Homo sapiens: one gene and its partners. The protein of the gene in region 2 interacts with the protein of the main gene of each other region in a biochemical or structural test. Each region holds a gene or a part of one and is shown on either strand. Other genes may lie near its edges.

Region 1 (7,026 bases), on a different chromosome or scaffold from region 2:
ATATCACATATGAAGATATTTTGACCGCTATTTAGAAGAGTGACCTCATAAATCTTTTAGCAAAGTAGACACACATACCTACCACATTTCTTAAAAGTAGATTCGTATTTTGATTTGAGATTGTTGAAAAGCATGGTATGTTTGGAGTGCACTTAGTTATGTCCCATCTCATAAAGACTGTTGAGCTCTCTGCACTGCTGATGATGAAGCATTGCATGAACCCAGAAAACGGGGATGCCAAAGCACAGGGCTTAGGTGCTGTTCCTTGCGTCATCAGCAGAGGTCTGTCCACTTTGTAGAAGGTAAGGGGTTGAGATGTGGGCTTTGCTTGTGTGAATGTATGTGCTGTTTAATTTTTTCTGTGTGTTTCGGGCGGAGGTTTCTCTGGTGAGTTATAATTCATATTTACCCTGATTTAAGTCATGTCACTTTAGGTAGCCAGATTCAAAACCATCAGATGAAGGACTTTTGGTGTTAGAGGGATTAGCAGTTTAACAAAACTTCTGATTCATGGCCCAAGATCAGATTTGGTTTGGAATCAGAACACTTTGGACTAGTTTCTGCATCTGGCTTGAGTCCTTGTGGATTTCTTGTTTTATTTCTTTATTTTTGGCAATCTGTAGTGCATTTTGGCATAGTTTACTTATGAATGTTACCGCTAACTTTCTGAAATCTTTTATTCCATTTTAGAAAGGTATCATTTATTGAAAAGATTTTTCTACTGAACAAAATACTGGGATTGAATGGCAGCTTCTTATCACATTAGATATGACATTAAGTAATTTCGTTAGTAGTTAAAATGAAGCAAATGGCATAGAAATGAAGGCCAGGCTGACATAGGATAAATGGCACCTTCTCTCCTTATCCTGTACAAACACGGATAGTTGGCTACTTTTGAATGCCTCTTCTATACCAATGGTAAAAATCCGGCTTAATTGGGGCCACATTCTAGCCTAGTCACAATCAGTGGCTTGCATTATGTCCTTTGAGATGTGGCAGATCTGCTTATAGGTGCCAGTCACCACGGCTCCCTGCTGGCTTGGGGGTCTTTCTACTCATTTACATATAATTATCTACTTCTTAATCAACCATTAAGGTTAACTTTTGGCATGGATCCTGTATGCTTTTCAGTTTAAGATGCTGTCACTTTTAAGATGCGCCATGAGAGCAAAGTGCTAAGCCTTGTGCACATACTATGTCATTTAGTTCTCATGAGAACTGTGTGAGGTAGGCTGTGATTTACAGATGAGGAATGAAAGCTCAAAGAGGTTACGTGACCTGCATAAGGACACAAAACAAGTTAAGTTATGGAGCCAGCTATTTTGAATAGAAAGGCCTAGTTTTTAACATGCTGAATATCCTCCCCTTCTGACAAATGCCTTGAAAGGTCTTACTATCTAGATTATTTAAGATAATGTAAGAGAAATAAACACCACTGGTTGCAAACTGATGGCTGCTGGGCCCGATTTGACCAGGAACCCTGCTTAATGTGGTCTCTAGAGTGTTTTAAAGCTTGGAAATTTCATGAAAATGGTAAAAATCTGGCTTAATTGGGGCCACATTCTAACCTAGTTACAGTCAGTGGCTGGCATTATGTCCTTTGAGATGTGGCAGCTAGTTGTGCTATGGTTGCAGTCACCACTACTTTCTGTTGTCTTAGGGGTCTTTCTACTTGTTTACATATAATTATCCACTTCATAACAAACCTTTAAGGCTAACCTTTGGCGTGGATGCCATATTTCTTTCACTTTAGTGTGCTGTCACTTTTAAGATATGCCATTATTTCATGTACCACGAAGAAAAAATTGCTGTCAAGTTATGACATACTGTCCATCTTATGAAGCATCCTTATTTCAGAGAAGTTGAAATATGAGAAAAAGGATATTTTAGAATTGATGAATTACAGTGACTAGAAACCTGGGAAAACTCCATGCCATCAGTTTCAATATCCCCAATCATTCAGTACTTTTAAGTCAACGAGTAGTCAGATTTCTGCTTTTCTGTGTTTGAGGAAAGTGCTAGAAAAAGAGAAGTGCTCTTAAATAGGCATTAGCACAGAAGGAACTGGGGGCCTAGATCATAGCCAACTGGATGGCCGTCTGTAAGTGATTAAGAATAGTTGTTAGTTTTTAAAAAGTGGCCTGTGTGTATTTTCAAGAGATTACTTGGGAAACCCTATGTGCCATCTTTGCAGCTGTGCAAAACGGTGAGGACAAGATTGCTTTCAAAAATTGTGGTTTAGATTTTGCTTGGATCTCAAGGTGAATGCTGACAGGCCGTTTTCTGAAGAGAGAGAAGGCTTGCCCAGTCATGCCAAGTCCAAGTGCCTGTGTCGGGCCTAGATGCTGGATGGTAGACTGTATACCCAGGACATATAGGTAATGTTTGAGAAACAAATGTTAAAAGGACCTAGTTTTCATGGTGACATTTAAAATCAGTTTTTAAAATTCATGAATATAACATGTTGTTTTAAAATTTGATTATAGGGACCGGGTGCAGTGATCACTCCTGTAATCCTAGCATTTTGGGAGGCCGAGGCAGGAGAATCACTTGAGTTCAGGAGTTTGAGGCCAGGCTGGGCAACGTGGTGAAACCCCGTCTCTACAAAAAATAGAAAAGTTAGCCAAACATGGCGGCACGTGCCTGTAGTCCCAGCTACTTGGGAGGCTGAGGTGGAAGGATCACTTAAACCTGGAGGCAGAGGTTGCAGTGAGCCAAGATCATGCCACTGCACTCTAGCCTGGGCGACAGAGTGAGACCCTGTCTCCAAAAAAAAAAAAAAAAAAAAAAAGACTAATGAATAGAATTTATTTTCTTCAATGATGTAGTGTCTGTGGAATTTGTAGACATTGACATTTGAATTTTCATTATATTTAGTTTTATTAAATCAGAATGTTATGATTGTTTATTTCATTATTGAACATCAGTTTCCTTAATTTAAGGAATAAAAATAATTTTGCTCAGGCCAGACATAGTGGCTCACATCTGTAATCCCAGCACGTTGGAGGCCAAGGCTGGTGGATCACTTGAGGTCAGGAGTTTGAGACCAGCCCAGCCAACATGGTGAAACCCTGTCTCTACAAAATAAATAAATAAATAAATGAAAAAAAAATCAGCTGGGTGTGGTGGTGGACACCTGTAATCCCAGCTACTCTGGAGGCTGAGGCAGGAGAATAGCTTGAACCCTGAAGGCAGAGATTGCAGTGAGCCGAGATCGCACCACTGCACTCCAGACTGGGTGACAGAGTGAGACTCTGTCACAATAATAACAGGCTGGGGCAGTGGCTCATGCCCGTAATCCCAGCACTTTGGGAGGCCGAGGCTGGAGGATCACCTGAGGTCAGGAGTTTGAGACCAGCCTGGCCAACATGGTGAAACTCCGTCTTTACTAAAAATACAAAAATTAGCTGGGCTTGGTGGCAGGCAACTGTAATCCCAGTTACTCGGGAGGCTGAGGCAGGAGAATTGCTTGAACCTGGGAGGCAGAGGTTGCAGTGAGACAAGTTCGGGCCATTGTGCTCCAGCCTGGGCAACAAGAGCAAAACTAAAAATAAAAAATAAAAAAAGAATAGTAATAGTTTTGCTTAAAGGGTGAGGACAGTGACAAATGGTGATCCTCAGATGACTGTAGTTTCTTTACCATTACAGAATGCAATTCAAATGAAAACCATTGCATGGTACTCAGGCATTTCTTCAATGCAGTGTGTGCCCACATCACCAGGAAGCTTACTTGGGAAAGTTTGTTTTGGGATTCTGGAGTACCTCAATATATCTGGTATATTTTCCCAAGAAAAGTGAATAATCTTGGGGGGCCGAGGTGGACAGATTGCTTGAGCCCAGGAGTTTGACACCAGCCTGGGCAATGTGGTGAAACCCCACCTCTACAAAAAATACAAAAACTTAGTTGCGTGTTGTGGCACGCACCTGTGGTCCTGGCTGCTGGGGAGGCTGAGGTGGGAGGATGGCTTGAGCCTGGGAGGTTGAGGCTGCAGTGAGCCATGATCATGCCACTGCACTCCAGCCTGGGTGACAGAGCAAGACACTGTCTCAGAAAACAAAGGCAAACAAACAAAGATCACCCCAAAGAAGAACTCCCAACATATTAAAAGTCATTGAGTTTTGTACCCTTCAAATGGATGAATTGTGTTGTGTATGAATTACATCTGAATAAAACTGTTTAAAAATATTAAGAATGATTGAGTGTGACATTATTGCAGCAGTACATTGGAGTTTCTGCTAAATTACTTTTGCATTCATTTCAAAAGGAAGCAACTATGCCCATTGCTAATTTAATAACCTGTTTGCTTGTGCGGTGTTTAAAATGGCATCATGAAAACATGGCAATGTGTGATAGATTAAGAGCCAATTAAATTTTTTATTTTGAGTTACAAGATCTGCATTAAACAGATTTTATTGTTGCCCTTGAATTTCCAGTCTTAGATGAGTAGCAGCAGTGAAAAAAAGAGATCCTAACTTAAGAGTTTTCAAGCTTTTTGATGTTGCAGGTATTTGAATAAGTGGGTCTGTCTTACTGAAATATTTGTTAATTAGCGATAAAGCAAACTATATGTTGATCTTTTGGTAGTCCATGCTAAGGAGGATTAGAATAATATATAAATAATATAATGGTAATAAGTATCAGGGCAGGAGGATTAAAGAAGGGTGGAAGAAGTGTGACAAAATGTTACTTTCTGTTTTTACATTGTTTCTCTTCCAGGTCACAACTGTATTTCAAATGTATTTCATTTTCAGACTATAGGTGGCAATGTTTGTGCTGTTCACTGTTTAATGTTACTGTTGGCTCGGGTGTTGCTTGTTGCTGGAATATGGAAATGATAGCATAATTTAGAGTTGAGAATAAAAAAAACTAGATTTAGAAAACTAGAAACTAGATTTAGATTTAGTAGAGACTTTCTAAATAGTCCTAGTTCTGCTGTGTGGACCCTTCTGTAACTTTCTGTTACTCTGAGAAGGAGCTGATAATTATCACAACTACTGGTGTTTGATTAGCAGAGACATTCTTGATTCCTGATGCAAGACCGTGGCTGAAGTTGTAGCAGGGCGTTTGGTGGTTGGCGATGTAAAGATCTGGGCCTCTTGTTTCATGAATAATAGAATCTCACTATGATTGTAATATTTTGTTTTGAACTGGAGTGCTGATTATTGTAATCCCTTTAGGTGAGAAAAGCCTTATTATATAAGTGTATCTGGGGTAACTAGCTTAAATTTGACACTCCAGTCAACTTTTTGTCCCTGACTTCAGTCCTGCATTGATTCAAAACGCACCAAGTTAAATGTCAAGGCTCTCAGATTCCCTTGCTGTCATCAAATTCAGTGTTTGGTGACTTCTTGGCAGGCAGACATCTACCAAGAGATTTTGTATTCTTTTTATACCTCCTATTCACCAAAAGAAAAGGGCCATTCAAAAGTGAGTTTTTCTTTTTTTTTTTTTTTAAGTTTAAAAAGCTATGATGTGGCCACCCATGGTGGCTCATGCCTATAATCCTAGCACTTTGGGAGGCCAGGGCAGGCAGATCACTTCAGGCCAGGAGTTCAAGACCAGCCTGACCAACATGGCAAAACCCCGTTTCTACTAAAAATACAAAAATTAGCTGGGCGTCGTGGCGTGCCCCTGTAATCCCAGCTACTTGGGAGGCTGAAGCAGGAGAATCGCTTGAACCTGGGAGATGGAGGTTGTGGTGAGCTGAGATTGCAACTCTGCACTCCACCCTGGGTGACAGAGTGAGACTTTGTCTCAAAAAAAAGCTGTGATGTGAAACCTGTTCTGTGAAGGTGGAACTTGGAAAGGCTTGTAAGGATGGTGGTCCCATGAAGAGGATGAACAAACCAAGGGAACTGTCCTCTTGCTGGTTTGGGTGATGTCCCATCACCTGTCACTTTGTTTGTTTGGGCTGCAGTGGACCAATGGTTTCCCAGGCACACTGAAGTGACATGTAGATGGATTGCTTGAGTGGCTCCGGCATGTTTCCATCTCCTGTCTACCAGGCAGAGACCGTGTTCCCTGTTTTGAGGGGATCCAGAAGTGCAGTGACAAGGGCCTGATTTGCATCTCCAGCTCCTGGTCTTGCCTGTGTTAACAATTTTTTTTTTTTCTTTCCAGATGGAGTCTCACTCTGTCGCCCAGGCTGGAGTGCAGTGGTGCAATCTCGGCTCACTGCAAGCTCTGCCTCCCGGGTTCACGCCATTCGCCTGCCTCAGCCTCCCAAGTAGCTGGGACTACAGGTGCCCACCACCACGCCCGGCTAATTTTTTTGTATTTTTAGTAGAGACGGGGTTTCACCATGTTAGGCAGGATGGTCTCGAACTCCTGACCTTGTGATCCACCTGCCTCGGCCTCCCAAAGTGCTGGGATTACAGGCATGAGCCACCGTGCCCGGCCAACAATTTTTACATTCTAATTAATTTCCAGTTTCCAACCTGACTCAAGGTTTAGCTCTTCGTCTCTTGGGTGCAGTTTTGGATCATGTCTTATAATGTATATTTAAAAGTGTGTTGTAAAGCTGGAATTCCCATTGTGGGTAAATGCTGAGATTGTTGTAATACTGAGAAGTGCACTTGGGAACCATGGCCAACACTGCCCTAGCTGACCGGAGGTTGCACTGAGTTGTCCCCTTTGAACATCTGTTATGAATGAATGTTGGAAAATGCAAAGCCAATCATTTCTTTTACCTGACCTATGTGATGTTAAGTTTTAGTTTTATGTTTTGGCAAGTGAGTGTTGGATGTCACTAATGTGAGGAGGCCGGTGAGGGCAGACTTTGGGTCAGAGGTAATGTAGGAGATGAAGACCCTTTCTATTAATTTTTCTTGTTTAATTGAAGATGTTCGTGTTGAATGGGTTTTATTTACATGTATAAGTTCTTTTTTTCTTAATGCTGGAAGTTACTTTGGTTTTTCAGAAAATGCAAGTAACCCTAATCTATTTAGAGAATTACTTTGCTTAGTAAGCACTCAGTACTATTTAGTAATGGGGAAAAAATGTGTTTGTGTCCCACAGCGTGACAG
Region 2 (7,263 bases):
GTGGTTTCACCATGCTGGCCAGGCTGGTCTCAAACTCCTGACCCCGTAATCTGCCCACCTTGGCGTCCCAAAGTGCTGGGATTACAGGCATGAGCCACCGCACTTGGCTAGAGATGGGGTCTTTCTGTGATGCCAAGGCTGGTCTAGAATTCCTGGCCTCAGGTGATCCTCCCACCTCCACCACCCAAGTTGCTGAGATCACAAGCATGAGCCATCACAATTGGCCTTGGAATAATTTTAGATTACAAGAAAGTTGAAAAGATAGTACAGAGATTCTTTTTTTTTTTTTTTTTTTTGAGACGGAGTTTCGCTCTTGTTGCCCAGGCTGGAGTGCAATGGTGTGATCTTGGCTCACTGCAACCTTCGCCTCCTGGGTTCAAGCTATTCTTCTGCCTCAGCCTCCTGAGTAGGCGGGATTACAGGCATGCACCACCATGCCTGGCTAATTTTGTATTTTTGGTAGAGACGGGGTTCTCCATGTTGGTCAGGCTGGTCTCGAACTCCTGACCTCAGGTGAGCTGCCTGCCTTGGCCTCCCAAAGTGCTGGGATTACAGGTTTGAGCAATCGCACCCGGCCCTGTACAGAGATTCTTGTATACTCTTTACTCAACTTCCACTAATGTTAACATCATACATTACCATATGGCTATGTCAAAACTGAGAAATTAGCATTGTTATAATACCATTAACTAAATTACAGAATTTATTTATATTTCACTAGGTATGCCCTTTTGGTTCTAGGATCCAATTCAGGATACCACATTGCATTTAGCGTGGTGCTTCTTTTTTTTTTTTTTTTTTTTTTTGAGACAGAGTCTGGCTCTGTTGCCCAGGCTGGAGTGCAGTGGTGCAATCTTGGGTCACTGCAAACTTCGCCTCCTGGGTTTGAGCAATTCTCCTGCCTCAGTCTCCCGAGTAGCTGAGATTACAGGTGCCCGCCACTATGCCCAGTTAATGTTTTGTATTTTTAATAGAGACAGGGTTTCACCATGTTGGCCAGGCTGGTCTCCAACTCCTGACCTCAAGTGATCGGCCCACCTCAGCTTCCCAAAGTGCTGGGATTACAGGTGTGAGCCACCGTGACTGGCCTCGCATGGCGCTTCTTATTCACTTAAAATATATCCTGGAGATTGTTTCATATCAGTTAATATGCAGTTGTCTCATTAGAAGGACTACAGAATGAATTCCTAGAAGTGAAATTGCAGGAGCAGTGATTATGTGCATTTAAAGATTACCAAACCCTCTCCCTTGAAGAAATTACCAGACCCTTGTCCGGTGCAGTGGCTCACACCTTTAATCCCAGCTCTCAGGGAGGCAGAGGCGCGAGGATACCTTGAGCCCAGGAGTTTGAGACCTGCCTGGGCAGTATAGCGAGACCCCGTTCTCCACAGAAAGGGGGGAAAAAAGACAAAAAAAAAAAAAAAAAAAAAAAAGAAAGAAATTACCAGACCTTTTTTTGGAGAGGGGGAATTGTCTTTTTGTGGTTTTTCTCTTGAGACAGAGTCACCCTCTGTCACCCAGGCTGGAGTGCAGTGGTGTGATCTCCGCTCACTGCAACCTCCGCCTCCTGGGTTCAAGCGATTCTCCTGCCTCAACCTCCCAAGTAGTTGGGACTACAGCGCACGCCACCACACCCAGCTAAGTTTTTGTATTTTAGTAGAGTCGGGGGTCTCACCATGTTGCCCAGGCTGGTCTCGAATTCCTGAGCTCAAGCGATCCGCCCGCCTCGGCCTCCCAAAGTGCTGGGATTACAGACATAAATCAGGGCGCCCGGCCTGGACCCTTCTAACTGGTCCCCCTTTGAGTATTCCAAGTTTCTTCACATTCCAAGATTAGGATTGGACAGTGATAATGTAAAGTGCTCAAAAAGTTTTTGCACTCTTCAAAATAATTTTTTTAAGTCTACTGGCACAAATACATATAGCATTGCGTGATTTACATTACACCAATAATTCCTTGTACCATGACCTACGTATATGGTTGAGTCCTCTTAGGACCACTAGGGGGCTCTGCTAGAAGGGTTTATATAATTTATGTCAGCCCACTTAGGGGAAATGTTTTGAGATGATATTTTCGAATTCTGAACTCTTAAAACTTGAGAGAGATAATCTAATCCAGTTTTCTCGTTTCGTAGATGAGGAAATAAAAGCTGGCAAGAGAACTGCCATGGGAGAGAACTGGAATTTTAAAATCTCCTCTTGGTTCCTGGGGCGGGAGTTTAAGAAATTCTCTTTTGCCTTGTGCCCCCACTGATTCGCCTCCATTGGCTATTTCCATGTTTGCCACCACAATTTTAATTACTTTTGGTAAAACCATGTATTTGTGATATTTTTATAATAGATATTTTACTGATTGGCTAGGTGAAGAAAGTGCATGAAGTATAAACTTCTGAAATGACACCCTTATTACTTATTCCAAAATGTTCTATTCAAAATGCTTCTCAGTACCAAACCATTATTACTATGCACCTTAGAAACCACTTTCTTTTTTAAAAATTATTATCTTTAGAGACAGGATTTCACCATAGGGCCCAGGTTGGTCTCAAACTCCTGGGCTCAAGTGATCTGCTCCCCCTCGGCCTTCCAAAGTGCTGGGATTACAGGCGTGAGCCACCGCGCCCGACCAGAAACCACTTTCTTTTGTTTGTTTGTTTTTTGTTTTTTTTTGAGACGGAGTCTCGCTCCGTTGCCCAGACTGGAGTGCAGTGGCGCAATCTCGCTCGCTGCAAGCTCCGCCTCCCGGGTTCACGCCATTCTCCTGCCTCAGCCTCCCGAGTAGCTGGGACTACAGGCGCCCGCCACCACGCCCAGCTATTTTTTTTATATTTTTTTAGTAGAGACGGGGTTTCACCGTGTTAGCCAGGATGGTCTTGATCTCCTGACCTCGTGATCCGCCCGCCTCCGCCTCCCAAAGTGCTGGGATTACAGGCGTGAGCCACCGCACCTGGCCCAGAAACCACTTTCAAACTTACTTTCCACTTAAAATATTTTATACTTTTTGTTTTGTTTTGTTTTGTTTGAGACAGAATCTTGCACTGTGGCCCAGGCTGGAGTGCAGTGGCGCGATCTCGCTCACTGCAACCTCCGACCCCCAGGTTCAAGCGATGTTCCTGCCTCAGCCTCCAGAATAGCTGGGATTACAGGTGCCTGCCACCACACCTGGCTGATTTTTGTATTTTTAGTAGAGATGGGGTTTCACCATGTTGGCCAGACTGGTCTCGGACTCCTGACCTCAAGCGATCCGCCGCGCCAGCAAAAACGTTTTAGTCTTATCTGTACTCATTTACTCATTCAATATTTATTGAGTGCCTACTATCACCAGGCACCTTTGAGGCCTAGGTTTACAGAAATAAGGCTCCCCCTCCCCCACCCCGAGTCCCCTGAAGGGTACTGTAATTGTTTCCATTTCTCCAATTTTCACTTTAATATATGTGAATTTTCACATGCTTCATTCAGTTCAGTGGTTCTCATAATGTGGTCCCGGAACCAGCACCAACAGCAGCAGCAACTGGGAGACTTGTTAGAAGCGCAGTCTTAGGCCCACCCTACACTCTAGGGATGGGCATAGGAGTGTGTGTGTGTGTGTGTGTGTGTGTGTGTGAGAGAGAGAGAGAGAGAGAGAGAGAGATTGTGTGTGTGTGTCAAGCTCGGTATTAAATAGGTCAAAGAGCAACATCTGGCTTCTAAACCCACCCTCAGGCCTCTCCACCGAGTACCTGTCTCAAACCCAATCTGATCCAACAATAACCAGCCTTAATTCAATAATCTGTGCTACCTGAGATGATGGGAATAATCGTGGTACTATAAATGTTGCAGAACAAAAACGACTGCAGTAGATTTTCTGGGGCTACACCAACTGAAAATGGGCCGGACCGAGATCCGGGAGAGCGTTTTCCTGCGCTAGACACGGCGTTCAGCCTCCGGGTTCCGGGTCTAGCTGAGTCAGGGCGGCGTTCCAGCCGAGTGCGGCGTCGGAAACCCGTTCGGTTGCGCCCGAACCTTCGGTCAGAGGCCAGCGCTGGAAGCCCAGACCACAGCACCCGGGTTTAAACAGGAGCGGAGGCGCCGGGAAGGGCCGGGGGGGCCGGCTAGGGCCGGCCAGCTTGGAAGCCGCACCCTCGCGGCCCCAGACGCCGGCAGGGCGGAGCCACGCGGCCGCAGCCCCAGCCGAGACGCGAGCTCGTGGCTCGGGCGTATGGGGGCTCCAACGGGAGCGGCTGCGCCGCCCGGCCGGGTCAACGTCGTGCGCATGCGCCGACCCGGCGCCATTTTGGTGGCCGGGCGCGGAGGTGATTCCACACTGAGGCGAGCGCGGCGGCCGGGGTGGTAGTGGCAGTGTTCGTGTGCTCAGGTCTGAATCGCCGAGGGAGGAGGCGGTGGAGGAAGAGGTGGCGGCGGTGGCGGTGGTCGTAGCGGTGGCGGAGGAGGCGGGTACGAATCAGCTGCGGGCGGAGACATGGCCAACATCGCGGTGCAGCGAATCAAGCGGGAGTTCAAGGAGGTGCTGAAGAGCGAGGAGGTCAGAAATGAACTCCCGGATATCCCCCACCTCTGCCTGGGGCGGGAGGGTCCTCCCAGCTGCGACCCCGATATCCCCGGTAGTCCCTGGGTGGTCCTCCTTGCGGCCGCCCTTCTGCCTGTGAGGAAGCAGCAGTGTTCCCCTCCTCCTTCCGCCGCCTTCCCCTCCCCTCCCAGAGCGCTAGGATGGACGGTCTCGCGGGCGGGTGGTCTGGGGTGGAACATGGTTTGGGGAGGTGATGGACAGGGGGCAACTCCTCGGAGGGATGGAAGCTCACAAGAGAACCCGAGGCGGTGGCCGCAGCTGGAAATGTGGCTGTGGGGTGGGGAGGGAGCAGGCCGAGCCTGAGAAAACCCGGGAAGTGGGTTGGGGGAAGGGGAAAGGTGGTAACTGGATCCCAAGAGCAGTGCTGCTCGAAGGCCCACACTTTTGAGGGTATTCGGGGTTATTGCCTGTCAGGCCTTCACTGTTCTTTTCTTGGGGAAGGAGCAGTGAGTCCTTAGGTATTGATTAAAAAGGAAGGACATTCAGAGTTAGTCCTTCTTAGTTGGGTGTTAGGAGTCAAAGGGAGACATAATAGAATACTGTCTTATTTGGTGGCAGGGGTAAGGGAATTTTCACCTGAGTTAGCAAGTTAATTCCAAATAAGATAATTATCTCTTTTCCACTTAACCCCCAAATTCCTAGGCCTCATCTTTATTGACATCTCAATCTTTTGAGTGGGCAAAGGCAAGGTGTTTGGTGTATTAAAGACATGTAAATATTTTTAGTTAGGAAACAAATAATGGAATGTATGAGTAGCTTATTTCAAAATATTGTTTACAAGTTACAGATCAGAGAGACTGTCTTAAGACAGTGCCTCTGTGACTCGTGTTGTGCCACGAAACTTCATTATGATGTCCCTCATAGTTAACTTGATTCTTACTTTTGAAAAGCAGACCTATTAAAAATGTGAAATTTCACCAGATTAATACATTGTTTCATCTCCTTATTGAGATTTATCACGACTTAACAGATTTTCAAAAAAGTTGCCTCCCGTTGCTCTTAAGTCCTGCAGAATTTAGATACATTTGTACTACGTTTATTTATGTAAGATATTCACAGTGCTCTAGTAATTTGACTCAAAATTATGCAAGTATTAGTACAGTTTCTCATACCAAGATCAACAAGAATGCCAGATTGTCTTCCCCACATGAATTAAACAAAAAGTAATACAGAAAATGATTATTTTCAAGATTCACATACCATTATTGAATATATCATTGCTATTTGTGTTTTTCTTTTACAGTTAGTACTTTAATAGTGTCAATAATAATTTGTGAAATTCAGCATTCTAAGTATGTGATGAGTATACATGGAGAAAAAATTATTTAAAATTCAAAAATGACAACAGACTTATTGAAAGTAGTATATAAGTCATGGTCGGTTTTACAGAGCATGTGTATGAACTCTGACCTCTATGTTTGTTCATATGCCAAAACTCTGAATGGAAGGATGACTTTGTATTTTGTGGTACAATGCAGAAATAGAGTCATAAGTGTCTGTACTGATACAATGAAACAGCAATTTTAACTTATTTAATATGAAAATGTATTCCAGGTTAGTTGACATATATACTCCTAATGAAAGCAGTTGTTGTTGCCAACAACTGAAAACATTTCTTGTTTAATAAGGTTGTACAAGCCTGAAACTTAATAGACTTTTAATGCTTTATTTTCTGTTACTTACGGTAACAGAAACAGTAAGTTACTGCTCTGGTAATTAATGTGGTCTCTTTGCTTTTTATGAGCTGACTTTTCACCGTGGTATTCTTAGTACTAAGTTGAAGATTACCAGAAATACTTGTATTGCTCTCTAGTAATGCATATTAAAAAAACACTGCTCTTTATACGTAAGGGATGTTGAAGCCTTACTTCAGATAAGCATCAAAAGTGTTTCAGAAGAAGAAAACAGGAAATGCAAACAGACAGGTTTTTTGTTGTTTTTGTTGTTTGTTTGTTTTGTTTTGTTTTGTTTAGAACAGTACCTGTATAAATATGGAAGGAAACTTCTGGGAAAATAAGTTGGAAAGAACATTTAGGAAAGGGTCACATCATTTAATCTTGGAATAAATATAACCAATAAATAGCTTATTTTCACCAGTATTTTTTGATATTTTAGTAGCCCCAGTTCTATAAGTGTATTGTTATTTTCAACTCATTGAAGACTTGTAGTATAGTCCATGTGTTTCCTTTTTAAGGGTGTAAATACAGTCTTTTGAATGGCTGATCAAATAAATGTTTCATCATGTCACTTTTTTGGTAAATCAGCACTTTACCGAAGTTTATTTCATGTGTTTGTATGCTTGTGTTTACTAAGAACACTGGTTGATTTAAGGACTTTTTGGGGTGGCCTTATAAGAGCCTTTGTAAAGATAGCTGACGCTTACTGGATTCTGGTTATGAGAGATTATAAGTGGCCGTTCTTAGAGTGTGTTAAAATACAGCCAACAAGATAAATGTGAAAAAGCAAGGTGCAGAATAGTGTGGAAGAGGCCATTTGTGTCAAAAAGAAGGGCATGTGTGTATTTGCCTGTATGGGTAAAAGGTTTCATGAGAAATTGGTAAAATTGATTGCTTTCTGTGTAGAGAGTTGGGTGTCTGGGGTATAGATATTTTTTGAATTTTGTGTCATACAAATGTGATTTACTTAAAGGCATCATTTGGCCTCTTTCCCTTAAGACAGTGTTTGGAAATTTGTCAGATG
Region 3 (7,243 bases), on a different chromosome or scaffold from region 2:
TGCTGGATAACCTTTAAGTATTAACAAAAGTTTCTGATGCAACATAACCTACAGACTTTTTACTACAACCTTTCATTTTCATTGCATTTCCTATCTAATTAGACAGCAATCAAACCCAGAAGTATAACGTCAGACAGGCCTGGGATAAAATGAGGGCTCCACCACTTAAAGCTATTTAACTGAGGACAAATTATACTTAACCTCTTTGGGTTTTTGGTTTCCTCTATAAAAGTTAACATTCTCATGAGGCTCTGTTGTGAGAATTATAAAATAATGCATATAAAGCACATGGCCTAGCACCACAGGCCTTCAGCAGAAGTTGGTTATGAATTTAGGCTAAGTATCCATCCCAGTTTGTCGGGGACAATCAAGGTTTGCACCTGCTGTCCAGGAATTATTAATGTTCCTTTTGTTCTTAAAAGTGTCTTGGTTAGGCAATAAATTATGTGGTTACCCTAATGATGATGATAATAATAATGAAAGGAGTCAATATCAATTAAAAGTATCATGTATCAATTATGAATTTTTGAATCTTAAAGGAAAAAAATCAACCACCACACACAAAGTAACGTAAAATTATACTCTCGTAAGCTATTCTGATATTTCATTTAGTTATCCAATGAACATTTAAATGTTATTTTACTTATACTCATGCCATTCCAACAATGATATAAGACAACAAATTTTTTGTTGTTGTTGTTCTATACAGGTATTGGTAAACTTCAGACATTATTTTAAAGAGTCAAATTCACAGATAAAGCACTGGTGAGTTCCAGGTATCCAGAAACATTACCCTTTTAATTCCCAGTGAAAAGTACCCATTCTTATCATGAAGAATACCCAACACCATCTAACATCTATCAATGAGCCCATCCAATTACAGGGCCTGCAAAATAGAACAATAAATATTTGTAAACATGCATTCTACACATAAATCATCAGGAGACGCAACAAAAAATAAATTACCTGACTGTTATGACATAGTATTGAAATACAATAAACTGGATTTTAGTTTTCTTCACTCTGCTCTAGAAAAAAAAAGAATCCATTATTCTTCCTCTTTAAAAAGATACACATTTTCTTTGAATTAGACACAACCTAAAAAAAAAAATACAGACACACCATAACCCAACCTAATTCAATATTAGTATTAGGGCATTTGGGGAGAGCAAGAAGGTCAGAGGGGACCAGGAGTTAGATAAAAGATGTCTTCTAAGACTGAGAGACAATTTACGTTTTATTATAAGCTTGCTTAAAATAAGCCTTTCCTTATCAGACCAGTAATTATTTTCAGATTCTGATAGTCACTTTCAAGGACTTATCTGGCACATTACACTAGCCTAAGGTAGGAACTAAAGTATTAAAATTCATCAGAACATCATGGACTAAAAAAATCTTTGTAACATTTTTCAGTAAGTGGAGTGTGTCCTAAAATCAAGTTTTAAAAAGTGGATTGGTCTTTCTAGCTACCTAAGCTATATTTCTACAGTTTAGAAAAGTCATGGGGGGGGAGGGGTTATAATTGTGCCAGTCCTCCAGGGAAGATACAATGTACTTAATGGGGTGATAAGTAGTTACTCTGTCTATAATCACGAAGAATGAAAGAAATGATTAGTAGCAGTAGGTTTATTATTTCTTCCCCCTTTCAATCAGTCCAAAACACTGCGGTTAATTCTGATTCAGGAAATGCGGGCTCCTTACTTCTGGCAAAAAATCATTGTGGGGTCTTGCAAATGGAAGATGACAATCTGATACAACTGCTTCCTCTTGCCCCAAAATGAAAAAAAAAATGACCTCAATAACAAGACTGCTAGGCCTCAGATTCCCAGACTAACCTGTGGAATAAGTATGGTGAAACTGTCTAGGGAAGGAACGTGGCTGTCTCCTCCATCTTGAAATTAATCAGCATAAGGGAAAAAGGGACCGAGTATTCAGGAAGCAGAAGCCCAACCGGTTAATACTAGTTACTAAGCTATGGCATGCGTGGCAGGTACCGTCTGCAGAAGCAGAGACCCCCCTAGGCTTTTTTTTTTTTTTTTAATGGGGGAGGGATTGAGTTGTTGGTGGATTAAACACAAATTAACTTGAAAATTTGGCCCAATTCCATCCCTTATCCAGGAGAACACAACAAACACCTAACGGCTTTTCCCTCTCTTTTGCGGGGGGATCCTTCCAGTGATACCTGGCAAAGGATATGCCAGGGTTATTCGAGCAAGGGAGTAAACCACATTTGCCTCAGATCCTCAGGGAAGATGTCATCGCGGCCCCAGGGGGCGCCTAATTGGTAATACCCTGCAGAAGGGCTCAAAATGAGGTTTTGGAAATCTAAAGGCCCAAGAGTTGCCAGCATCTCACTTGGGGCAGCCTGATTTTTTACTTCCCTTTTCCCAAACCCAAGCCCGCCATGGAAAACGCGGGGAGGTCAGGGAAGCCTCCAGAGAACAGAGAAGAAAAAGCCTGAGACGTTCTAAGATTCTGACGCCTGAGGCCAAAACTCAAAAACTGCCTCCCCCGATTTCCTAAGGCTCCGGAGGGCCTGGGCTGCAGCTCGCGCGGCCACCGAGAGGAAGTACTACCCACCTCCTTCCCCTTCAAAGAGCCTGTCGACTATACCACTCAACTAAAATGGCAGCGGCGACTACGCCACGGAGCCCCCCGCAGCAACGGGCCTGGGGTCCGGAGGCGGCGCTGAGCCTCTGCCACGACGCGTCACTCGGGCCATTTTGAGAGAACGCGGCAGCCGCGGCTCCGCTGTCTTCCTCTCGCTCTACATCATTTCTCACAGGATTCCCAAGTCTTCACTTACTAGGTTTTAGGGTCAGGATCCGACTCGGTTGGTTCGGCCGCCGCCGCCGAGGCTGCTCCGCACCTCCCTGGCCGCCGCTCTCAAGCCCGCCTCCAATGAGTAGCTGGTTGAGACCCGCCTCTAGCCCAGCGCCTGCTCGGAGACGTTGCTCAGGCAGCCATTATCTTCCCCATTGTTACCAAGCAGCGACAGGAAACGACTGCCCACAACAGGAAGTGATGATGCCGCGTCCCGGCACCGCAGCCCCACTCCCAGCCTATTAGCCAATCCCAGTCGATTCCTCGAAAAGGCTCCGCGGGAGGAGGAGGGGGACGGCAGACGACGCGGCAAGGCGGGCGGCGGTTTGGAAAAGGAAAGCTGTTATGACGCCCACCATGTGACAGGCCCCACCCTCCTCCGCCATTTTGAATTGTGGCGAGAAATTTGCGTTCTGAGAATTGTGGGAACCTTCGCTTTCCCATTTTGAAAACTGAAGGACGTCACGGTCTGACTGCTTGAAGACATTTTCAGAGAGAGAGAAATGTGATATTAGTCTACCCTGACATCACATCAGTTCACACAATCCGTGCAGACCAGTTCAAAAAGTAGCCTGCGTTTTATTCAACATGTATTTACACAGTGCCAACTGCATGTCAAGCACCATTGTAGCTGCTTAGGAAATTAAAATAGACCAAAATTAAGAAAGAAAACAGGCCACGTTCGGTGGCTCACGCCTGTAATCCCAGCACTTTGGGAAGCCGAAGCGGGCGGATCACCTGAGGTCAGGAGTTCGAGACCAGCCTGGCCAACATGGTGAAACCCAGTCTCTACTAAAAATACGAAAATTAGCCGGGCGTGGTGGCGGGCGCCTGTAATCTCTGCTAATCGGGAGGCTGAGGCAGGAGAATAGCTGAACCCAGGAGGCGAAGATTGCAGTGAGCCGGGATCTCGCCACTGCACTCTAGCCTGGGTGACAGAGCAAGGCTGTGTCTCAAAAAAAAAAAAAAAAAAAAAAAGAAAACAGATCAAAATCCCAGTTCTCTTGAGTCTTTATAGGGGCCAGGGACAATAATTTAGAAAAAATCAAACATAAATACATATCATGTTAGTGATAAATGCCAAGGAGAAAAATCAAGGAAGGGGGACAGAAGAGTTCCTTGTAGGGACAAACGGATTCGTGATGTTTAAAAGACTGATAACTTTGAGGCATTAACTCTAAAGTATTCGAAAAAGGGCGGTGATTGTAAAAGGGTGGGAAAATCTGATAACGTTGGGATTTGTAAAAGGGCAGTTAAAGAAGGCCTTTCTTAGGTAGTAATGCCTGAAAGAATTGAGGGAACTCGCCACACAGCATGCCACTCCCATTGTCACAGTTAAAGGAAAACCTTACCCAAGTTTTTAGATTCTTTTCCTTTTCCCAATTTTTCTGTTTTCCAATAGCATGCCAGCTATGCTGGCTTTGTTACGGTTTTTCCAACAAAGCTAACTTCTTCCTACTTCAACTACTTTACCTTTGCTGGAATATTTTACTTTCATATCTTTGCTTTCATCATCCAAGCCTCGCAATTATTAACTTCCTAGAGAAGCCTTCCCTGACCACCCTACCTAAAATAACTTCTTCCTGAAGGCGGAAAAAGGTCTGAGGAAAAAAAAAAAAAGAAAAAAGTAATAACGACTTCTCCCATCTCCTTACCTGCTTACTTTTCTTGTAAAACACTTAATCTGAAAGTAAGTTATTTATTTGTTTGTTTACTTCACCCTTTCTGAGCAGTAAACCTCTCTGTTTTGTTCACTGTTGTGTCCCCAGCGACCACATAGTAAGCCCTCAAAATACTTTGGGAGAATTACCCCCTCACCATGATGGATGTTATATCAGCCTGGAATATAAGTATTTCACTCCAAGCAGTTAAAACAATATCCCTCATACTTACCTGCCCAACTCCCTAGAAGACTCATTGATATTGTCATTTTTGGCAGAGGGATACATGATTTAGGCGCTGTGTCTCTACTCAGGTTTTTGTCTTATTTTACATAATCATGTACTAGAACGATTACCTAGAACGTGTAAAAGGAATTCTTCAGTAGCCTGCAATTGCCATTAAGCCTGATATTCTGATTATGGCAATAACATTAGCCACTCCTTAACGTATTCTTGAGGCTTATGTGGCTTAATCTAAAATATAAAATCATAAAAGAAGTGGAAGAAAATACAGGTTACTATTTCTGTCCTTTCTTCCTTCCTTCCTTCCTTCCTTCCTTCCTTCCTTCCTTCCTTCCTTCCTTCTTTCTTTCTTTTTTTTTTTTGATGGAGTCTTGCTTTGTTGCCCAGGCTGGAGTCCAGTGGCATGATCTCAGCTCACTGCAACCTCCGTCTCCTGGGTTCAAGCGATTCTCCTACCTCAGCCTCCCCAGTAGCTGGGATTGCAGGCATGCACCACCACGCCTGGCTAATTTTTGTATTTTTAGTAGAGATGAGGTTTCACCATGTTGGGCAGCCTGGTCTCCAACTCCTGACTTCATGATCCGCCTGCCTGGGCCTCCCAAAGTGTTGGGATTACAGGCGTGAGCCACTGTCCAGGCCTAGGTTAATATTTCTATAGCCTTGGGGATGCAGAAGCACTTTTGAAATACAACACAAAATCCATAATGGGAAAGACTAATAAGTACAACTTCATAAATAAAAGTAAACCTTCTAAATGTCAAAATACAAGGTTGGTAAAGTTAAAAGACAAATGATAAATTGAAAAAAATCATTTCATAATGACATATTAGAGCCAAGGGGTAATATCTTTACTTAATAAAAAGACGAAACACTAGCAAAAATGTTACATATGTGATAAACACATATGGCTAATATCAGCCTATAAAGAGTTGTTAAACATTGATTTTTAAAAAGATAAATACCGGCCGGGCGCAGGGGCTCACACCTGTAATCCCAGCACTTTGGGAGGCCAAGGCAGGCGGATCACAAGGTCAGGAGATCAAGACCAGCCTGGCCAATATGGTGAAACCCCGTCTCTACTAAAAAAAATACAAAAATTAGCTGGGCGTGGTGGCGTACTCACTCCTGTAGTCCCAGCTACTTGGGAGGCTGAGGAAAAGGAATTGATTGAACCCGGGAGGCAGAGGTTGGAGTGAGCCGAGATCATGCCACTGCACTCCAGCCTGGGTAACAGCAAGACTGCATCTCAAAAAAAAAAAAAAAAAAAAAAGAGATAAATACCTCCATTTCAAAATGTGCAAGGAACATGAATGGATAATTCATAAAAGGATAAAACACGTGGCTGATAAGCATATGACAATATATTCTTTTTTTCTTGTTAGTAAATAACCTTGTACTTGAAAATATATTCAGCCTCACTAGTAATTAATCAAAAATAAAAACAATGAGGTACAACTATTATGTATCCATAATAATTAAAAAACAATAGCTGGGTTCGGTGGCTCACGCCTGTAATCCCAGCACTTTGGGAGGCTGAGGCGGGTGGATTGCCTGAGGTCAGGAGTTTGAGACCAGCCTGGCCAACATGGTGAAACCCCGTATCTACTAAAACTTCAGAAAAAAAATTAGTTGGGCGTGGTGGTGGGCACCTATAATCCCAGCTACTCGGGAGGCTGAGGCAGGAGAATCGCTTGAACCGGGAGGCAGAGGTTGCAGTGAGCCGAGATTGCGACATTGCACTCCAGCCTGGGCAACAAGAGTGAAACTCTGTCTCAAAAAAACAAAACAGAAAAATTTTATGAACTAAAAAATTTTTTAAAAAGTTCCTTTTTTTGCCTGTTAGAATGTCAAGGATAAAAAATCGATAATATTAATTGTTGATGAAGATCCTATGAAATGGGCACATTTGTATTGCCAGTGGGACAAATTGATATCAGTTTTCTTTTTTTTTTTTTTTTTGAGACAGAGTCTCACTCTGTCACCAGGCTGGAGTGCAGTGGCGCAATGTCGGCTCACCGCAACCTCCACCTCCTGGGTGCAAGCAATTCTCCTGCCTCAGCCCCCCGAGTAGCTGGGATTACAGGCGTGCGCCACCACACCCAGCTAATTTTTGTAGTTTTATTAGAGACGGATTTTCGCCATGTTGGATAGGATGGTCTCGATCTCTTGACCTTGTGATCCGCCCACCTCAGCCTCCCAAAGTGCTGGGATTACAGGCATGAGCCACCACTCCCAGTTTTCTTAAGGCAATTTGGTAATGTGTTTCAAAAGACTCATATTCATAGTATTTGACAAACATGTCCAGGTACAGAAATTTATTTTAAGGAAAGAAGTGGACAAATTTGCAAATATGTATGTAATGAATGTGCAAAGATGCTAATTACAGTGTGGTTTATAACATCGAAATATTGACAAATCAGAAAAAATAACCATCCAACAACAATTAGTTATAGTATAACCACATAATAGACTACCATGTAGCATTAAAAATAAGTACCTAGAGCTGGAAATACGTT

Evidence for each region.
Region 1: the proteins of UBE2K (region 2) and NEDD4L form a complex in vitro, tested with the Homo sapiens proteins (2 studies listed by BioGRID).
Region 3: the proteins of UBE2K (region 2) and RLIM form a complex in vitro, tested with the Homo sapiens proteins (2 studies listed by BioGRID).

What each region holds. Positions count from the first base shown.
Region 1 is NC_000018.10:58,047,209-58,054,234, forward strand, and holds part of NEDD4L (E3 ubiquitin-protein ligase NEDD4-like), read left to right. Parts: intron 1-17; exon of another isoform or gene 18-302; intron 303-7,026. UniProt on the Homo sapiens protein: E3 ubiquitin-protein ligase that mediates the polyubiquitination of lysine and cysteine residues on target proteins and is thereby implicated in the regulation of various signaling pathways including autophagy, innate immunity or DNA repair.
Region 2 is NC_000004.12:39,693,873-39,701,135, forward strand, and holds the start of UBE2K (ubiquitin-conjugating enzyme E2 K), read left to right. Parts: upstream 1-4,263; 5' UTR 4,264-4,455; coding exon 4,456-4,518; intron 4,519-7,263. UniProt on the Homo sapiens protein: Accepts ubiquitin from the E1 complex and catalyzes its covalent attachment to other proteins. In vitro, in the presence or in the absence of BRCA1-BARD1 E3 ubiquitin-protein ligase complex, catalyzes the synthesis of 'Lys-48'-linked polyubiquitin chains.
Region 3 is NC_000023.11:74,611,616-74,618,858, forward strand, and holds the start of RLIM (E3 ubiquitin-protein ligase RLIM), read right to left. Parts: upstream 3,010-7,243; 5' UTR 2,807-3,009; intron 1,029-2,806; exon of another isoform or gene 967-1,028; intron 1-966. UniProt on the Homo sapiens protein: E3 ubiquitin-protein ligase.